5 separate regions of the Homo sapiens genome follow, and regions 2, 3, 4 and 5 are each linked to region 1. Evidence: fine-mapped expression QTL. A gene starts in region 1. Each other region holds a variant in brackets. All regions are shown on one strand. Distances are from middle to middle. Region 1 holds the start of HSPBAP1 (HSPB1 associated protein 1). Region 2 overlaps PARP14 (poly(ADP-ribose) polymerase family member 14). Region 3 holds the start of LINC02035 (long intergenic non-protein coding RNA 2035). Region 4 overlaps HSPBAP1 (HSPB1 associated protein 1). Region 5 overlaps PARP14 (poly(ADP-ribose) polymerase family member 14).

Region 1 (4,119 bases):
GCAAAGTTCAGGCCCACGGGTGCAGGTACAAAGAGGGCAAAAGGTTGACTTCATCCAGAGTAAGAGTTTTGTCAGAAAAAAGTGCAGGAAGGGACAAGAGAATTTTTCAAAGGAACGACATACATTCTGGATAAGGGGGTGCAGTGGATAGAAAATGGAAAGATCAATGCAATGGAGGTATAGATGAAGGTCAAGAATTGTCTCCCTGGTAGAAAGTGGTCAGATAGTAGGAGGCTATAATTTGTTTCTTCTGCTTGGAATGGGCATCTCCCCCTTCAGCAAACTGTTTGACCCCTAAATACATCCATCCTTTTCTGCTCCCTGACTTCCTGAACCCCAGCACCACTCCCTGAGTTTGTCACCATCTCATCCAATCAGAAAGGCCCACCTCAGCGGATCACAAGGTCAAGAGAGCGAGACCATCCTGGCCAACATGGTGAAACCCCGTCTCTACTAAAAATACAAAAATTAGCTGGGCGTGGTGGCACGCTTGTAGTCCCAGCTGCTTGGGACGCTGAGGCAGAAGAATTGCTTGAACCTGGGAGGTGGAGGTTGCAGTGAGCCAAAATCGCGCCACTGCACTCCAGCCTGGTGACAGAGCGAGACTCCGTCTCAAAAAAAGAAAAAAAAAAAAAGAGAGAAAAGAAAAAGAAAGGCCGACCTCAAACTATTCGCTCCTTGAAGCATTTATGTTCTCCCCACTGAGATCCCTCCTCCTAACAACCCTCACAGAGTGTACTACTGGTAGAATAGTTCAGGTGACCACATAGTAAGTCATTCTTTTTCCTTTCTAGGCTCCTTTGGAAAAGGTATTGTTATAAATATTCAAAAGTCTCTGGATCCTGCGACAGTATTCAGAACACAGCCCTGCACGGTGCAATCATTCAATAAATAATAACAGGGATCTCAGGCTCATGGGCCTCCAAACCTCATCCCCACTTGCTAAACCAGGGTTCACTGAAATAGAATAAAAGCGCATAATCCCTGTTCACAAAAGTCTCAGATAACTTCCATTAATCTCAAAGGTTGCCTTCAATTTCACAAATTTAATTTTAATCCCCTCTAAACGTTCAAAACACCTCTATTTAGCTAATGATGGGCAAATATAAAACAAAACAAAACAAAAATAACACCCCATGCGTGAAACAGCACTCGTAGGCTACCCTACGACGATCAAAAATCTGGATGCCACAATTCGAGAAATGCCACGCTCACTAGAAAATATAGATTTTTCTTCATAGTCTAATGCAAGGCCAGAGAGACCTGGGTTGGGGCTAAGGCAAACGGCCCCACGAGGGGTGCCACGAGAGTCAACTGGCATTGGGTTTGTACTCAGGGTCGGACCTCAGCCTGGCACCTACCTTCCTCCCCTCCAGCCCCAGCCGCAACGATCACAGGAGTGGTCGCCTCGGAGCCTGCTGCCATGGCTACCGCAAGGCGGGTTCTGCCGGAACCCAAGGCGGAGCGGAGCTGGGGTGGGGTCAGAGTAGGGGCCAAACTCCGAGACCCGAAGCTGCACCACAGGAAGGAGCCCCGGCGACTCCCGCCCGGCTCCTACGGAAACGCCGGCTCTCACGTGGAGGTCACGTGACGGATGCTGGGCGGGACCACGCAGCTTTGTTTTGATACCCCGGGTGTGGAAATACAAACACGTGGTCTGAGTTGTGGCGCTTTTTACCTAACCCGGACCTTAGCGTTCTTTATTGTAGTCTTAGCTTCGTTTCTGTTTCTCCTTTTCTAGTCAGATCCTTCCTTTCCACCTCGGCTTTTCTCCACCCTAAAGGATTGGAGTTTTAGGGGAAGGTTTGCCGCTTAGTGGGGCTCCGGCGGTGGGATGGGTCTCTGCCGTGAGCTTTCGCGAGCCGCTCTTGGCAGCCTGGAATGCGAGGCTAGCTCACGCTTCTCTTACACCTCTCTTGCCCTTCTGGTGGTAACCTGACTCCTTCTGATTTTAGTGGCTGCCGGGAAATACGAACCTCGGGCAAAGAATCCTGTGATTGCGTTCCCTGTGACTCATTTCCCGATCCAGACAAGCCAAATTGCTTGACTTTAGGTTTTCAAGGACACTAATCCACAGCTGTCAGGCTTCTGAATTTGTATACCAAAATAAACAAACAGCTGTGTGAAGAGATCAACAACCACCTTTCTTCTCGTTTACCCTGTGGTCAAATCATAATCACTGGAGATGGATCTTTGGGGCAAAAATCTTCCAACTTTACTGGACATACCTTTATTGCTCGCCTATTGGCAGGCGAAATGGGTAAAGTTTACATATATATGAATGAAATTGGCTAGTTTGGAATCTCCTCTTTGGATATGTAAGACAAAAAAGTAACAAAAATAGGTAGTACTTATTGCACGTAAGAAATGATTTTTATGAGATAATCCCCTGGGACCAACTACGCTTAAACTTTATCCTTCGCCTATAATTTCTGAAGTTACTAACTCAACAAAAATGAGAATAAGCCCAAAATAGAAGCAAGCATCAGGTTAACTGACGTCACTTAACAGGTCACTGAGTTGTTTATTAGGCACAAGATTTAACTTGGACACTTCCTCCAAACACCCCAGGGTTCCTTGCCCAACCTCCTCGAATACAGCCTCTCTGGGAGTTTCCCTCTCCCCGACTCAGCCGCGCTGGTCCCTGCCTTTTCAGCGCTACCTGCCCTCCGTCTGGGACCTGGCTCCTTTCCTCTCGCCGGTGTTTCCTCGCCACCCGCGGAGGGGAGGGCGGACCCCAGCCTCCTTGCCGCCTGCCCCGCCTCCCCGCCTCCCCGCCGGCCCGGCTCGGGCCGCGCAGGCGCACCAGGCGCGGTCCGGAGGCCGAGGGCGACCACAGCAGCCTCCGCCTCCTGCTGCTCAGGACTATTCTGCGCTGGGCTAGTCGGCGGTGACCCGGACTGCGCCCGGCAGTGGCTTCGCGGGCGACGCGTCGCCATGGGCTCTCGCTGGAGCAGCGAAGAGGAGAGGCAGCCGCTGCTGGGGCCCGGGCTCGGGCCTGGGCTGGGGGCCTCCTGGAGAAGCCGGGAGGCGGCGGCGGCGGCGCTGCCCGCGGCGGTCCCGGGTCCCGGGCGGGTATACGGGCGCCGCTGGCTGGTGCTGCTGCTCTTCTCGCTGCTGGCGTTCGTTCAGGGCCTGGTCTGGAACACCTGGGGTCCCATCCAGAACTCGGCGCGCCAGGCCTACGGCTTCTCCAGCTGGGACATCGCGCTGCTCGTGCTGTGGGGGCCCATCGGCTTCCTGCCCTGCTTCGCGTTCATGTGGCTCCTGGACAAGAGAGGTGAGGGGTCGCGGAGCGCCAGCCCGCGCTGTCTCTCCTCCGGGAGCAGGCGCCTGCCCGCGCTCCAGGCCTGCCAGCCGCCTCCCTTGGCCCCGGCATAGGGGTTGTGTGAGGTGATAGAGTGTTGCTAGCATTCCATTTCTGACTTAGGAACCCTCCGTCCCCAAAGCGACAAATATGGAAAGGCAACCTTGCAAATATTTATGTTTTTTATCAAGGCCCTTTATGCAACACCAGGGATTTAAGCGATCTCTAAACGTTCAAGTTTTTACACATTGTGAACATCAGAGCATCCCCGTGCACGTGCGGTGTATGTGTTTTACACCTGACAAAAATGACTGATGCTTTGACTTCAAAGGGATATGGGGATGTTGAGGATGAAAGGTCGGAAAATAGATTGACGGTGCCCATATGTAAGGAAATAATGAGTTCGTTTTGTGTAATAGATGACTCCAGCCCAGGAAGAGCTATTGGGAAACTCAGATCTGACACTTTGGTTTCTGGAAGGTGGTGCTCGGCAGCTTTAAAATGTGTGTATGTGACTAGATGGCTTTCTCAGTTGAGATTTGTGACTTTCAATTAAAGCTTGCAGATGAGTGAAGATGCTTGCTTAGAATGGTACCCTGGACATCTCACTTTACCACTTGCCAGTGTGATTCTCTGAGAAGAAAAAGCCATAGGGCTGAGAATCAAGGCATACTTACCACATAAGTATGGATAAATGATTAGTAGTGACAGTCTACCCTCAAGAGGCTGTTGTGCAAGATTTTATATTTATTAATTGAATAATGCCTGGGAGCTACTTTGTACAGTTTCTGTTCAACCTTTTATAAGTTTTG
Region 2 (4,119 bases), 89 kb before region 1:
CATCAGTTATGGGAATGAATTTCATTCCTTGTCTCTTTTGACACCAAATATCAAGACATTCTTTCCCAGCTAGGCATGGTGGCTCATACCTGTAGTCCTTACTACTCGGAATGCTGAGGTGGGAGGATCACTTGAACCCTAGGAGTTTGAGGCTGCAGTGAACTATGATCATGCCACTGCCCTCCAGCCTGGGTGGACAGAGCAAGACCCTCTCTCTTAAAAAAAAAAAAAAAAACAAAAAAAAAAAACAAAAAACAAAAAACAGTCATAGTTTGCTTTCCTTTCACTCCCATAGATGCTTAGCTTCCATGGCTGTAATAACTGCTCTGCATTACTCCTTAGTGACCCAGGCAGGGCAGCTTTGAAAATCACTTGGTTACATTCCCTCTCCTCTGTTCTCTTGACCTCTCTAATCTAGCCCGATTAATCTGCTCACATTCACTGATGAAAAAGCTTCCGGGGCTGCTCCCTTTCTGTCAGGGAGTCCAGATGTCTTGGCACTCGAGGTGGGCCCCCTAGTTTACCCCCAGTGTAACATTTCTAGCCTGGAGCATACCATTTTGCTGCAGAAGCTCTCTCAGATCAAATTAATCTGTTCACAGCTCACAACCCACCATGCCTATGTTCATGCTGCTCCCTGTCTTGCTCTGCCTGCTGAAATTCTTCCCATTTCTCAAACCCCACATTGCCCATGGTATCTTCACTAGTTACTGAAACAGCTTTCTCTGGACTCCTTCAGTGATGCCATACCATTCATAGATTACTTTTTGACTGCTCTCTTTTTTTCCTAAGTGTCACTTCAATAAGTATTTAGTCACACTTTGTCTTATGTTGATATTTCAATCACTGAAACCGTAGTCATCTTAGTTGTCTCCAATTGTGCCAAGCCCAGTGCCTCAAATATAGTAATCATTGATGAATGCTTTTTGTTAAAATTTGAAACAAATTTTTGGTTTTGTCTTTAAGACCGATGTTGTTGTCAACTCCGTTCCCTTGGATCTCGTGCTTAGTAGAGGGCCTCTTTCTAAGTCCCTCTTGGAAAAAGCTGGACCAGAGCTCCAGGAGGAATTGGACACAGTTGGACAAGGGGTGGCTGTCAGCATGGGCACAGTGCTCAAAACCAGCAGCTGGAATCTGGACTGTCGCTATGTGCTTCACGTGGTAGCTCCGGAGTGGAGAAATGGTAGCACATCTTCACTCAAGGTTGGGCCTGGTTTTGAATTCTCCATGAAGTTGGGTAGCCCTTTGGGTTCTCCTTTTAGTAGCATATTAATTGGACATAGATTGGGCCTTGTCTGTTTCTCTTCCATAATAATCACTCTTTTGGCAGATTCCATCATGTGGCCATTTCTTTCAGCTGTAGCTGACTTCTCCTGAGGACTAGTTAATACTATAAATGGATTATTGTGCTCAATAATTATTGGAGCTCAGGGAAGGGTTACTGAAGATAATATTATTGCTTGCTTAGTGAAGAAAGCCAGAGGAGGGTGTGAAGAATGGAAGAGAATGAAGGAAAAGAACAGTAGTTGCTTTGCTTCTTTCCTTCATTGTGAATGTGTTTAAGTCTCTCGCATTCTCTTTTCCTTTTCCTTGCCTTCTCCTGTATTTTTCTTTCCTCTTCTGATTGCCCTTAATCAGTGTTGACAGCAAAAAGGAGTATTCAAGTTCACAAAGTTGCTAAATTCTTGTCCTTTTTGTTCTAACTCCCATTTCTAGACAAGATGTATAAGGATGTGCTTTGTGCGTTTCAGATAATGGAAGACATAATCAGAGAATGTATGGAGATCACTGAGAGCTTGTCCTTAAAATCAATTGCATTTCCAGCAATAGGAACAGGAAACTTGGGATTTCCTAAAAACATATTCGCTGAATTAATCATTTCAGAGGTGTTCAAATTTAGTAGCAAGAATCAGCTGAAAACTTTACAAGAGGTTCACTTTCTGCTGCACCCGAGTGATCATGAAAATATTCAGGTACAGTGCCACTAATTTCTGATTATTTTGGCAACTGAGACCTAGTGTTTTTTCAAATGTCTTTTTGGTCTAACAGGATACTTTTTTCATTCATTTCCCCATTCAGGAAAGTAAGAAGGTAGTTTATACTTGTAGTTGTAGTTGTAGCATGACAAATTTTAAGAAAAGTTACAGATGTAGAAAAAATTTAACTTCCTATTCAGGAAAATTTTGAACATATCCAAAAGTAGACATAATAGTATAATGCAGTCCCTTGTACCTATCACTGAACTTCAACAGTTATCAACCTATGGCCAATATGTTTCATCTCTATCTTCATCTATTTCCCTTCCTTCTATATT[C/A]TTTTGAAGCAAATCTCAGACATATCATTTTATCCATAAACAATTCAACATTTATTTTAAACAATAACAATTCTTTTTAAAAAAGTAACATAACCACAATATTGTATCACACCTAAAATAAATGGACAATAATTCCTTTAACCAATTATCAAATCAATTCTCAAATTTCTGACTATCTCATAAACGTTTTGTTTTTACAGCTTTGTGTTTGAATCAGAATCCAAATAAGGCCCACATATTGCAATGGAGTTGACTATAGGATTTCCCTCCATATGGACATAGAAATTTTAATACATAGTATAAAAGCACAGTCTGGCCTTATCAATAGGAAGATGTCAGAAGGTGTGGTTAGAATGGATTAGCACATTCCCATGTAAATAGGAGAGTTGGGACCAGAAACACCAGAACTATCATCAATCATGAGTTCATGATTCAGCTCACATCAGCTGTGGGAGAGCCACTGGACTCAGCATTATGGCAGCACAACAGGCTTTTAAGCCATTATCCCTGCACTCCGAGTCTTTACTTAATCAAATAAAGTAGATGACATTCAGTGTTTGAAAAGCTCCCAAGGTACTGCAAAAATTGATCAAACAGATTAAGATCAGCAACCCAAGAGATACCTGTGGATCATTGGACCATCTGAATTTTTAGGTAATGCTTCATTTTTCTGTGATGCTAGATACTACCTATAAGTTCTTTGGAAGCAAGTAAATCTGACCTGAATTCTGATCAGGCAGCCAAACCACCTGAGTAAAATATGTGGTCCATTTACTTGTCCCGTATAATTAGTTACTCTTCTGTGCAACAGAAGCTTTTAAAATAATTTCCCTATGACTTGCATTGTGCAAGGTGATGTGGATCGTGGAACAGGACGAATAGGAATAGCACATACTTTCCCTCCTATAAATCACAATTACTTTGGAGCTAAGATTTATATACACAAAATGAACTAAATGAGAGGCATGAAGTGCTGTTTTTGAATGCATGGGTGATTGAATACAGCATGAGTCCTGTGACACAGACCTGAACCTTCAAATATCACTCTTTTTCATGCAACCTCAGCATTCATTTTCTTTCCTGAAGACTGAGTATTTTTCAAATACTCTGTAAAAAGAATTAGTCTATACAGATGCCTTTAGTACCATTTGAAATTCTCTGTATGTGTCTGTTACACTTTTTCTCTTTAGACTTTTAAAGACAGTTAAACTTTGGTTACATTTGCACAAAAAAATCAGCAAAGCTTATCGAGATGTTTATAGATGGAGACTGTCACAGAGGATGCAAAGCAGCAGTCCTGTGATTTGAACATGGCCTCTAGATGTGCTTTATTTAGATTATTAAAAAAAAATTTCAATCAGTTGCTAACATTTAAAAATCAAAAATTTTACATAAAACTCTAGATATTCACTACAACCTAAAACTTCAAAACTTCTGGCACATTAAACATGGCTTCCTGCTTGGGACAGGAAGTTTTCCATGGCTGAGTGGCAGGTGTTCTCTAGTTCTCCATAGTCAAATCAGACCACCTTTACACATGTGCCTTACCTACCTGGCTCCTAGAAGCCTGTGAGTCTGAGATCTTTGCTCTACCCTCTCTCTGGTTCCTTCTCCCATTATTGCATCTATCTTTAGCCAAGATGTTACTTGTTTTTTTTCCAACAAAATTATCTGTTGCTTGTTTACAAGGAGGAAGAAAATGATGATTATGGAGGGTCACCAACAGGCAAAAAAAAAAAAAATGAAATTCACAGGTTTATTAACACTAGAATACATACACCAGCTACTTGCTCCAAAAATCATGA
Region 3 (4,119 bases), 93 kb after region 1:
AAAGTGAGTTCCAATATGCATTATTGAGTTGAGTTCCAATATGCACTATTGTGTTTTCTTACTGGAAATACAATTTCTGTTCTTAACACCATCAACTAAGCTCCCTGTACTGTGAGAAAAGAAAGTGAGTAACCGACCTATGAAATCCATATAGATTTCCTCCACAGGACTTTCTTGGCTTCCCTGTCTCTGCAGAGGCACACAATATTATAGAAAACAGAAGCCAAAAGAATAATCTTGTGCAATTTTTTTTTTTTTTTTTAGACAGGGTCTCACTTTGTCATTCAGGCTTGAGTGCCCTGGTGTGATCTCAGCCCACTGCAGCCTCAATCTTCCAGGCTCAAGCAAGCCTCCAGCCTCAGCCCCCCAAGTAGCTGGGACTACAGGTGTATACCACCATGCCAGCTAATTTTTTATATTTTTCGTAGAGATGGGGTTTCACCATGTTGCCCAGCCTGGCTTGTGCAATTTCGTTTTTTGAAAAAATAGCTAATGGAGATTCTGATAATTCTTATTGTTTCCTGGTCAACTTCTGTGTCTTTCCTAATTTTCAAGCTGTCAGTAGAAATGATGAACTGTAGCAGGCCAGAAGCTCAGCTTCATTTGGTCACTTTTTCCTTTCCTGTCTTCTTGCCCATCCAGCTTTCCCCTTTCTGATGGTGTCTTCTTATTTCTGACAATGCTTGGGAGCGAGCTGTGTGACACCCAGATTTTACGAGTTGCCAGCGGTGGAGAGGAGAGAGCCGGGCATGCAGATTCTTCATGGACCCTACTAGAGAGGACAGAGAAAAAGAGCACTGGTGTAGGAGCCCACGGGTCTGGCTCTTAACCCTGGCCTGGTGACTTCAGCTATTTGACCTTGAGCAAGTCACTTCATTTCTCCTTTAGCAACATCTCTAAAATGAGGGAGTGAGCAAAAATGTTCCCTTAGATTTCTTCTAATTCAGAAATACCAGTTGATTCTTATTTAAATATGAACATGACCAAAGCATGTGCAGTCTGTAAAGCTGGAGAGGTGCCCAGCACCTTGGTGTTTCCATTTGTGCGGTAGCCCCCCTCATGTGAGCCCTGTACGTGAACATATGAAATCTTATGCTGCATCCACATTCAATAAGAAGAAATTGCTTTTTCAGTGTCTGTGGGAGGAGATAAGCTGCAGGTGCTGTTTATTTTCCCAAAGGACTTTATATATGAAACACAGGGTTTATTAAATGTATCAAATGCAATAAGAGAAAAATCTGTCATCTGATGTTGAGATAGCATACTGGGAGCCAGGTCGGGGTACTGCATTTGCTCACCAGAATCAGATCAAACGAGATACGAGTCCTTTGGTTTGATTGGATTCATCATGAGGCAGCATGGGTTTGCACTTGTAGAAATCAAAACTGTTAGGTCAGGTAGTAAAGCCAATCCTTGAACTTACATCTTTAGTTAAGGCATCAAAGAATTGTAAGTTGCTTTGCAATGATGCCATCTCCACATGGTCAGATTCTTCCAGTAAACTGTGCAGATATTTTACAGAATAAGAGCTAAGTTTCAGCATGTCAAGGAATGATCTGTACTCAAGTGTTAGTAAACAAGGGTTTTTTTGTTTGTTTGTTTGTTTTGAGACAGTCTCTGTCATCCAGGCTGGAGTGCAGTGGCATGATCATAGCTCACTGTATCCTCAGACTACTGGGCTCAAGTGATCTTCCTGCCTCAGCCTCCTGCGTAGCTAAGACTACAAGCGCATGCCACCACCCCTGGCTAATTTTTTATTTTTTATGGAGAAGGGGTCTCACTATGTTCCCCCAAGCTGGTCTTGAACTCCTGGACTTAAGCAATCCTCCCACCTCAGCTTCCCAAAGAGTTGGGATTAAAGGCGTGAGCCCCCATGTCCGGCCAACAAGACTTCCTCGTGACTATAATGTGAGCATAATATTAATAGCTCTGAGAGAGAGAAGTGAACCAGAAGACCAACCTCAGTGTCAGGAAGTCTGGGCGTCTGTCTTCTGCATGGCTGAAGACATGGGGCTTTGGGCAAGTCATCTGTTCTCTTTGAACTTTGGCTTCCTCACTTCTGAAATAGGAGGGTCAGAGAAGATGTTTCTTTTTGCTGAAAAGTTTTACAGTTCTCTGATCTATACCCCTTGGTCACACACAACCAAAAAGTAGAAAACATGAGTGCAATACTTTTCCACCAGTACTCCCAGTTTATACATTATCTTCTCAAACCAATAAGGAACTTCTACAAGGCCCTGTTAGTGATGTGTTACAGGTGCCAGCATTAGGGAAACTTTCAGACTGTTATATCTATTCGTTCCTTCATCCATGTATACTATTCATTCTGTATGCAGAGTAATTTATATATGTACAATTACATGGCAGTGAAAGATAATCAGAAAAATGAA[G/GA]TTTTTTTTTTTTTTTTGAGATAGTTTTGAGACAGAGTCTTGCTCTGTTTCCCAGGCTGGAGTGCAGTGGTGTGATCTTGGCTCACTGCAACCTCCGCCTCCCGGGTTCAAGGGATTCTCGTGCCTCATCCTCCCGAGTAGCTGGGACTACAGACATGCGCCACCATACCCAGCTAATTTTTGTATTTTTAGTAGAGATGGGGTTTTGCCATGTTGGCCAGGCCATTCTCGAACTCCTGGCCTCAAGCGATCCTCCTGCCGGCTTCCCAAAGTACCGGGATTCCAGGCATGAGCCACCATGCCCAGTCAGAAGGTTTTTTTTTAAAAAACACACTCCTGAACTAACAATTACAAAGAGCTAGTGACAATTTCCCAAATAATTATGCATAACAGGAGCCCATATATTGTTCTCAAATCATAAACCATAACTGATTTTGAGGAAAAGACATTCTGTCCCACTGATATTCTTTTCATGAGTAAGATCTGGATCTGTCTGGAGGCACAGAATTAATTTTTGCATGAGGAATCCCAACCCTACCATCATTCCATGGCTGAGGAATTGGTTATTACTCCTATGGGAAATTGGGAATGTTGTTGGTACCCCAGCCTTCTCTTAAGACAAAATTTAACAAATGCATACATGCTAAGATGCTTATACTCATAAGGCTTTGTGGGTCTCCTTTCTAAGGGGAATTTGAATACTAACAAGAACAAAGGCTAAATACCAAAAGGGGGCTTTCTAATGGTAGAATTTGGGATATCAGGTAGCCACATAGAGCAGGGCTACTTTGGGGGCTGGAGACTGCAGAAACCCTTCAGTTTATACGTGTGAGTAAACCTAATCACACTTGATGTATTGCTAGTGAAGTCCCAGCCCCCTGAGCCTTTGCAGAAACCCAAAGAATGCTAAAAAGGGCAGGTTTTAGTTCCTGCCAATTATTTCATTTACTACAAATGCCCCGAGTTCCGAATTTACTTCCCTCCCCACCAGAAATATGTCATTTTGGAGGCTTGTGAAAATTAAGCATTAAGAAAATCCCGCCTCCATCCTAATACACTGCATCCACAAGTCCCAAACAAAATCACTTCCTTGGCCTACACACATAACTACCTGTTTCTGTTTAGGTCTGTGACTCAGAAAGTGCCTGGAAGAAGTCATGAGAGGGAGTCGATCCCATCTTACCTGCCATAGGAAGAATAGGGCCTGCTCAGTAGAGTTCAGTGTGTGTGTTGAAGGTGGTGGTTCTTAGTCCTTCCCTGAATTCACTAATTCGCATTGCACTCACTCTTCCTGATCAATGAGTTATTGCTGAGAAATCATTGTAGTAAGTAATACAGGTATCCCCAGTAAAGCCATCCCTCTCCTCCATACCTCCGCTGTCCCTTGGGTTTTGGCTCCAGGATCCTTGCCCCATGTCCCAAAGAATCCCTACCTTGGGCCTCCCTCCTCCTCTTTTGTCAATTGCACTTGACCTTTTCAGGAAAAAGAAATCAATTGATACCTTAGTCCTAATGTTTGACCCTTTTCTATCTCAGAATAGAGAAGTCCCTGTATTTGTTCTTTTTTTACTCAAGTTTAATATAGACCACCTAGGCACAGAAGCTCCGTGCTATATTCTGTTGCCTGTAATTGTCCTTCCATCTAATTGGGAAAAGGTTACTCTATTGAACCATCTGCTGATTCCCTTACCTTTTCACTCTTTTGTCAGTATTCCTTTACCAGTAAATT
Region 4 (4,119 bases), 41 kb before region 1:
AGCTAACAAAGGTAACCTGTATCTTAAAGTTGCCTGATTCCAAAGTCTATGGCCAGAATGGTAAAAAGTCTGGAAAAAGGAAAAAATCACCCATAAAAACACCCCATTAAAGAAAGTAAGAGGTTTTGAGCATGGAAGAAGAAAAGATTATGGAAAAACTTGGAGGTATTTTCAAATATTTTAAAAAGATGACAGCTCTACTCTTTAACAACAAGCGAACTTCCTTGGGAGGTGAAGCACCTGTCAGGGCTATTGTAGATATGACTTTGGCATTGGGAGTGGAAGTTCTCCATGGATTCTACCTTGACATCTGCTGCAACTCCAGTTCAGCATGCTATAGGCGAAATTTCTGTGACGCTACTGATCTCCTGCCATACCTCTCACTTAAGCCTCAAGGGCTACAACTCTTCACTAAGCCCACACAACATAGCTTTCTGTAACAATATTCCTTCTGTTCCACTGATTCCAAAGCCATTCCTATTAGCAAAGGATAGGAAAAACTAGACTAGGGAGAGGATACGGCTGTCAAACAGAGCAGAAAGATGCAATCCAGGCTTCAGGTCAAGGAGAGCAGAGATGCAGTCAGGGCCTCTGGTTAAAGAGAGGCAGCTGCAATTAAGGCCCCAGTTGAAGAGACAGACTTGAGCATAACAAGCAGCTATTCTAATTGTCAAATAGAGCAGGCAACCAGGATTAAGCTTAACACATCAGAGGGAAAGGCTTCTGGCAGAAATGAAATGATAAAAACCTAGCACTGAAAGAAAGACTCCGCTTTGAGAATATGTAGAAGCCAAGACAGAATTCTGCAATTAGTAATGACCCTGAACCAAGAAGCAGGTATTTCCAGCCCAGATGGTGTGAAAGAGGAGCGGCAACAAGGGACACATATCGGCAAATCTGGCCAGGCCCAATACAATTTTCCTAACAACACTGGTCAAGGGAAAGGACCCTGCATGCCAGCATCAGGCGCATTCTGTGTCCTTAAAAGAAAGAGAGTGGCACACCACTAAAATTCCAATTTCCAACCTAAACATCCATTAACAGAAGACAGAATGCATACGTTATAGTGCACTGCAACAAAAAAATACTGAAGCATTGGTTAAAAAAAATTAATTACCCAGTTGTACAGCCAGACCTTATATATCTTTTAAAAGCATGATTTGCACTTACTTAAAAAAAAAAAAAAAACAACGAAAAAGTACCAGTTCAATCCATGAGTTTATACTGACAGTGACAGGATCAATGGATTCTACGTAATGCCACCAGTGTCTGGGAACAAAGAGAACCTGAAAACCAAACAAAGAATGGTTAGCACAAGAACAGGACGTTTCATTTTTATGTCAGAATCAGACCCTAATTGAGGCTGCTAGGAAAAAAAGGAATACAAATGAATTCACAATAATATTGCTGGAGAAAAGTAAAGTAAGAAAAAAAACCCCGCAAACCTTTTTTCCTTTTATTCCTTTTTTATTGACAAGTTCACATGTTCTACAAAGGATACTGCCAGCATCTCTATTCTCTTTAATCCTGGGCCTTCTTTGTCTGCACCTAAATCTTAGTACATGATTCTGAGATTCTAATTTTTCCTCCTTTCCGTCACAAAATAGTTGCGTGCATTCTGAGAAAGGGCATAGGTAAAACACATAGGACGTGGCTTCTGTTTTCTCACAGCTCAAAATCTAGCCAATGAGAAGATAAAGTATAGAAAGGTGGCATTATAGAAGTGGTAAATCAGGGGACAATGGTGTTTCAGAATTTCAGAGGTGGGTGAAACAGGCATGAACTAGGGAGGTCAGGGGCAACATGGA[TGGAA/T]GAAGTGTGATTTGAACCCGGGCTAGGAGAGAATTTAGACACAGAAAGAATGAGGACATGCCAGGAAGGATAAGAGGTACAGGTGAGGGAGGTAGGACTACAGAAGATAGCAAGTAGGTCAGTCTTACTATCACAGAGGGAATAATGGGAGATAAGGTAGGGGAATTAGTTTAGGGACAGCGGACTTCAGAATCTAGATTTTATCTGGTAGGCACTAGGAGTTGTTGAGAAATTCTAAGTAGGGGGATGGTTAAAATAGTGGTATCGAGAGAGTCTGAGAAGGACAGGAGATACTTGCAAAGGTCCACTTATTAAACGTTAAGATATAAATAGGAAGGTATAATAAACAAAAGCAATGGGCAGAGTCAAGAAGGATGGCATCTATCCAGACTCAGTATGAGATTTCCTATTAAGAGCAGAGTAGATGGAAATGATGTGAAGCTTTTGGGCTTCACATTAGGAAACTACTGGTATTTGCTGTGAACAAGGCAGGACTGGGAAATAGAAAGAGAGATCCTTTCAGGAAAACTGGAAACTATAAAAGGCCACTTGATAGTCATTAGTAGGTTATGCATGTCCTATCAGAGTAAAGTTTCAGTAAAGTGGTGACAGAAAGAGCTGGGTTTGAGTGGATTAAAGAATGGATAGGATGTAAGGAAAACTGATACAATAGGCAAAACCAATCACTCAAATTTGGCTATTAAACACAGAAGAGAAAATGAATTGGCAACCACTTCACACTCTCTGGAATGGCTGTAAAAATAATGATAAAAAAGCAAAACAAGTGTTGGGAAAGATAAAAAGAAATTGGAACCCTCATACAATGCTGGTGGGAATGCAAAATAGTACAGCTGCTATGGAAAATAGTTTGACAACTCCTCAAAAAGTTAAACACAGGGTTACCATATAACCCAGCAATTCTACTCCTAGGTATACCCAAGAGTATTGAAAACATATGTACACACAAAACTTGTACATGAATGTTCAAAGTAGCATTACTTATAATAGCCAACAAAGCAGAAACAACCCAAATGTCCATCAACTGATGAACAGATAAACAAAATGTTGTATATCCATACAATGGAATATTATTCAGCCATAAAAAAGAAATGAAGTGCTAGTAACATTCTATGACGTGGATGACCCTTGAATACATTATGCTATGTGAAAGAAGTCAGACACAGAAGGCCCTGTATTATAATATTGCACTGTGTGAAATGTCCAGAATGGGCAAATCTAGAGATAGAAAAAGATTAGTTGTTGTCAGGGGCTGTGGGGAGAGGGGAATGCAGAGTGACTAACAGGTCGAGGCAACTCAGTCAAGTGAAATTGTTTGAGTTGATAGTACTTGAGTGAAGGAAGCAGGAAAAGAGCCAGTGAGACCGGTACAATGGATGGAAGACAGGCAAGGGAGAGGGATAATCGAGAGAATAAAATCTTCTTAAGTGACTAAGAAAACCTTTCAAATTATTAATGAAATATCAGACAGCAAGTGCCAATGTTGAAAAGGAAATTTTCCTCACTGGGAAGCAGCACTATGTACAGTACCTTTGGAAATGTTTCAGAGTTAGTAATTTATGAAAACAACATCCATTTTTGCTTAAAAGCAAACATTCTCGGTTCCTTCTGCCCGTTGGCCCACACCTGGAGGCATTCCGACCTGTGTTTATGTGTCTGGGTTCAGTGCTATCATAATTGAACAGATACTAACTGTGATTAAATGTTCCAGAGATGCTCGAGTACCCATGCCTTGAACATTTTCTCCTGACCTAAATGAAAATGACTCTTGTAGACTGTCTTCCTCCAAAGTCCATTCTCCTCTTTACCAATAGGAGGAGCTGTGTTCCCTCTTGCCATTTCCTTTCCAGGACCTGTGAAGCAGAGGTGTATGTGTCTGAAGCCTACAACTGGGGAAGCTACCTTCCAACAGCAGAGCAGAGGGAAGGAAGCCATTCTCATTTGCACTGCGCAGGGAGGGGAAGCACACAGCATAAGGACTTGAGAGAGTTACAGCTGTGGTGTCCCCTGGCAGGTCATTAATGTTTTAAAGCCCTATTACCTGTCCTGGGCTCAGTGTAACCGCATGTCTTTGAGCTTTCCGGAACTGAGGAAAACGCTTTAAATCAGGATTGACAACATTGATTTTACTGAACACACTAGATTCTTCATAAGGGATTCTAGTTGGATAAAGGAAAGGAGTATCTTCAGGAGGAAAGAGATGCCATCGTTTCCTAATTAAAAAAAAAAAAAAAAGATACAAGTTAGTACTCTGACCTTAAGACAAAACATGGAAGAAGACAAAAGCTA
Region 5 (4,119 bases), 110 kb before region 1:
GCTGGGCTTCCATCCTTGACCGGCCCCAGCCCACTACTCCTCTTCCTCCACCCCCAGGCTGCTCCAGTGGCCCCTCTTGTCTTACCCCCCAGCACAGATGACCCAAAACTTATTAAAACTCAAAACCGGCCGGGCGTGGTGGCTCACGCCTGTTAATCCCAGCACTTTGGGAGGCTGAGGCAGGTGGATGACGAGTTGAGGAGATCGAGACCATCCTTGAGCAACATGGTGAAACCCTGTCTCTACTAAAACACACAAAAAAATTAGCCGAGCGTGGTGGTGTGCGCCTATAGTCCCAGCTACTCAGGAGGCTGAGGCAGGGGAATTGCTTGAACCAGGGAGGCAGAGGTTGCAGTGAGGTGAGATCGCACCACTGCACTCCAGCCTGGCAACAGAGCAAGACTCCATCTAAAACAAAACAAAAACAAACAAACAAAAAGAAACAAACAAACAAAAACAAACTCGAAACCTAGTATGGTCTAAGTTCTTGGGGGTGGAAAATCCCTAGTCAGTTTCAGTTTCCTACTTGAGGAACCACTTTCTCAGTAACAAGGGTCAGGAATTTGCTAACAATGAATGACCTACGCTTGAAGTCCCAGAAGTGCATTCTTCTTCTGCAGAGGACACTCTCCACCCTCCATGCCAGGAAGTGGCCTCAACAGGTGCGGGCCCATAGCATAACCTGATTTGATTCATATAAACTGTAATAGGCAGATAACAAGAATGAGCCCACCAGCACTTCTCCGTATTTATTCATGTATAGCAAATAGAAACAAATGGGAAGCTGTATCTCACTTTTATATAGTTCACTGGATTTCTGAAAAGTTGGTGTAAATTGACATAACATTTTAAGCCCTGTTTCAGATGTGTCTATTTTATCATACTTTACCAACATAGTTTGGTTCCTGGTTGTTGTCGGGTTCCTTGTGGTAAGAACCCATCTTCTCCTTAAATAAAATTAAATGTTGATGATCTAAAGTTGGTGCAGGTGGAAGACTGTCCACTTGGGTAAGGGAGGTTGGACATCAGAGTTTCAGCTTTTTCCTCCCAGATTGACTTTCTCCTTTTTGGAGATCATATACCCATATTATTACCAACTGTTCTCCTGAAATACTTGTGCCCATAAATATTGCCCACAATCTGAGAACAGACTGGCACATTTAGATGCCTAGACAGGACTTTATCAAAGTCTAGGGAATAAGAAAAGGACTGTAACACAGAGGTCCATGACTCTAAATAACTTGACTTACAAAATTTAGCTTGTTGTCAGGCTGCAGGGGTCCTATCCAGTCCTCAATCCCCACCTTGGTTTAGTAAAGCCCTTCAGGAGTTTGTGTGGAAACATCTGCCCTCCTCATAAAGAGTGAGATTAGAAGCTGGCGTTCCTTCTCAGGTTGTTTCTGAGGCCTATTTCTGAGTTGGCATCCAATTAAGACCCCACTTCCTCCACCCTCTTCACAGAGGGTTGAGGTGGGAAAGCTATCATGCTCCTATTCATGAAAGATTCTGATCTATATCCTTGGCCTCATCAGGCCAGCCATATCAGAACACAGCATAGTGACCCAACATTCATGCTAGAGCTACACCTGTGACCTGTAGGGCACTCTCAAAAACTCCTTTTTTCCCTGACCTCTTTGTACTATCTGACTATGTTGATCATGCCTCCTCCTTGAAACTCACTTCTTCCCGTTCTTCATGGACTGAGATATGCTGATTTTCTTCATATCTCTCTGGCTGCTCCTTTTTATAATCGTAACTCACATCTGCGTAGTTCTTGAGGATGTTACAGTGTGCATTCATGGACACCACTTTAAGTGAGGAAACTGAGAGTTGAGAGAAGTTAAGGTATTCACTCAGCTATTTGTGGTAGAGTTGGAATTCAAATCCAGATCTTTGGACTCTATGTCCACTGTTCAGTTGTTTCACTACAGCCAAGCTGCCTGATATGCTAATCTATTAATTTGTTCATTTTTTTTTTTGCAAAAATCTC[C/T]CCCTTCTTTTATACTCCTTTTACTATCAGATGTGAGACCTGTTTCTAACTAGGCTCCTGCTTACAGCCACCTAGCCACCTTCCTAAAACGTGACTTTCATCATGGCATGTCCCAGTACCCAATCTTCACTGGCTCCCATTGAAGGATGCTTTAATTTAATTCACTTCAATATAGAATAAATATTGCTACCTTTTGAGTACCTCCTGAGTGTCAGGTCCTGTACCAAGTTCTTTATAATGTTTCTTCAATTTAATACACGTGGCACTCATACAAAACAGTCTCCATTAACCTTACAAATAGACAAGAAAACTGAGGCCTTATAAGTATGGCTTATTAGGGAACATGCTCAATATTAAAAAGTCAGTTTAAGGAAGAAATTCAAATCCATGTTTGCTTGCTAAACTTTTCCTCTTTTACTTCACATATAGCCTCTCTTGAGAAACCGACCAAGCCATTGATTGATGGTAATGCAGCCCACGGAAATCATAGAATAATTTTGTAAATAAAGATTGCTTGTCATTTGTCTTTTTTCCCCCCTTTGGACATTTCAGTTCGGCAGAAGGTTCTGGAGAGAAAAAATCATGAGTTGGTATGGCAAGGAAAAGGAACATTCAAGTTAACTGTCCAGTTACCTGCAACCCCAGATGAAATCGATCATGTCTTTGAAGAGGAACTTCTAACAAAAGCAAGTAAACTTTAGGCATGAATAAAAGGGATTTAGGTCTCCCAAGGTGTGTGAGATGGGAATCACCATGAAGAAAATATAGTGGAAAGAAAAGCATGAAGCAAACTGCAGCGAGAAAAGCAGATTACAAATGTAGGGGGAGTGAGGGCAGTGGTAGGGTAGGGTAGTATGGGATAAAGTAGGAGGGGGTACTTTTTTTTTTTTTTTTTGAGACGGAGTCTCGCTCTGTCAACCAGGCTGGAGTACAGTGGTATAATCTTGGCTCACTGCAACCTCTGCCTCCTGGGTTCAAGTGATTCTTCTGCCTTAGCCTCCTGAGTAGCTGTGACTACAGGCATATGCCACTATGCCCAGATAATTTTTATATTTTTAGTAGAGACGGGGTTTCACCATATTGGCCAGGCTGGTATCAAACTCCTGACCTCATGATCGGCCCACCTAGGCCTCCCAAAGTGCTGGGATTACAGTCATGAGCCACCGCACCCTGCTGGGGGTACTTTTTATGTGATTTTAGACACATTTGGAAAAGCCAAGATTTGGGGATTATAATAATGGTGGTTTTGGATGTAAAATTTGGGGTCTGTGTCTCCAGAGTTCTTTATAACCTGTAACCTGTTATATTTGTTTTATTTTCTATGTCATTTTGAGGAGACAGCAATCCATACTACCTGTATTAAGTATTACCCCAATTGTAAAATGGAATAGTAACATTAATGATCCAACAACAGATTGCAGGATTATTGTGAGGGTTGAACAAGATGATCTGTATAAAGCACATGACACAGTTCTTGTTATATATAATAAACACTCAGTAAATGTTTTATTTGTATTTGTTTTATTTATTTCTTTTTTAGAGGCAGGGTCTCACTCTGTTGCCCAGGCTGGAGTGCAGTGGCATGATCATGGCTTGCTGCCTCCTTGACCTCCTGGGCTTAGGTGATCCTCCTACCTCAGCCTCCCCAGTAGCTGGGACTGTAGGCACATGCCACCACACCTGGCTAATTTTTTGTATTTTTTGTAGAGTCGGGGTTTTACCATGTTGCCTAGGCTGCTCTTGAACTGCTGGGCTCATGTGATCCACTTGCCTTGGCCTCCCAAAGTGCTGGGATTACAGGTGTGAGCCACCACACCCGTCCTTAATTTAATTTTTATCTTTTTTAGAGACTGCTTTCATCTGTATCCCAGGCTGGAGTGCAGTGGCACCACCATAGCTCACTGTAATCTTGAACTCCTGGGCTCAAGTGATCCTCCTGCCTCAGCCTCCCAAGTAGCTGGGACTACAGGCATGCATCACTATGCCTGGCTAATTTTTTTTCCTAATTTTTTTTTGTAGAGATGGGGTCTCACTATGTTGCCCAGGCTGGCCTTGAACTCCTGGCCTCAAGCGATCCTCCCACACTGGCCTCCCAAAATGCTGAAATTACAGGTGTGAGCCACCAAGTC

What was found.
Region 2: its variant is fine-mapped to the expression of HSPBAP1 in whole blood (INTERVAL, PIP above 0.99).
Region 3: its variant is fine-mapped to the expression of HSPBAP1 in whole blood (INTERVAL, PIP above 0.99).
Region 4: its variant is fine-mapped to the expression of HSPBAP1 in lung (TOPMed, PIP 0.96).
Region 5: its variant is fine-mapped to the expression of HSPBAP1 in thyroid (GTEx, PIP above 0.99).

What each region holds. Positions count from the first base shown.
Region 1 is chr3:122,792,256-122,796,374 of GRCh38, forward strand. It overlaps HSPBAP1 (HSPB1 associated protein 1), which reads right to left and starts at 1,576. Exons shown (of 8, transcript NM_024610.6): 1 at 1,362-1,576. The coding sequence starts at 1,425. It overlaps SLC49A4 (solute carrier family 49 member 4), which reads left to right and starts at 2,814. Exons shown (of 9, transcript NM_032839.3): 1 at 2,814-3,280. The coding sequence starts at 2,938. RefSeq lists a silencer at 2,651-3,140.
Region 2 is chr3:122,702,776-122,706,894 of GRCh38, forward strand. PARP14 (poly(ADP-ribose) polymerase family member 14) reads left to right here. Exons shown (of 17, transcript NM_017554.3): 7 at 967-1,203; 8 at 1,752-1,973. Among named protein-coding and RNA genes, the nearest start is that of PARP14, 24 kb to the left of the region's middle. The variant C/A (reference allele first, on the strand shown) is at 2,315.
Region 3 is chr3:122,885,188-122,889,306 of GRCh38, forward strand. It overlaps LINC02035 (long intergenic non-protein coding RNA 2035), which reads left to right and starts at 1,326. Exons shown (of 1, transcript NR_024618.1): 1 at 1,326-4,119. The variant G/GA (reference allele first, on the strand shown) is at 2,391.
Region 4 is chr3:122,751,389-122,755,507 of GRCh38, forward strand. It overlaps HSPBAP1 (HSPB1 associated protein 1), which reads right to left. Exons shown (of 8, transcript NM_024610.6): 5 at 3,872-4,043; 6 at 1,203-1,286. Among named protein-coding and RNA genes, the nearest start is that of HSPBAP1, 40 kb to the right of the region's middle. The variant TGGAA/T (reference allele first, on the strand shown) is at 1,809.
Region 5 is chr3:122,682,643-122,686,761 of GRCh38, forward strand. PARP14 (poly(ADP-ribose) polymerase family member 14) reads left to right here. Exons shown (of 17, transcript NM_017554.3): 2 at 2,543-2,676. Among named protein-coding and RNA genes, the nearest start is that of PARP14, 3.9 kb to the left of the region's middle. RefSeq lists enhancers at 321-400, 421-610. The variant C/T (reference allele first, on the strand shown) is at 1,991.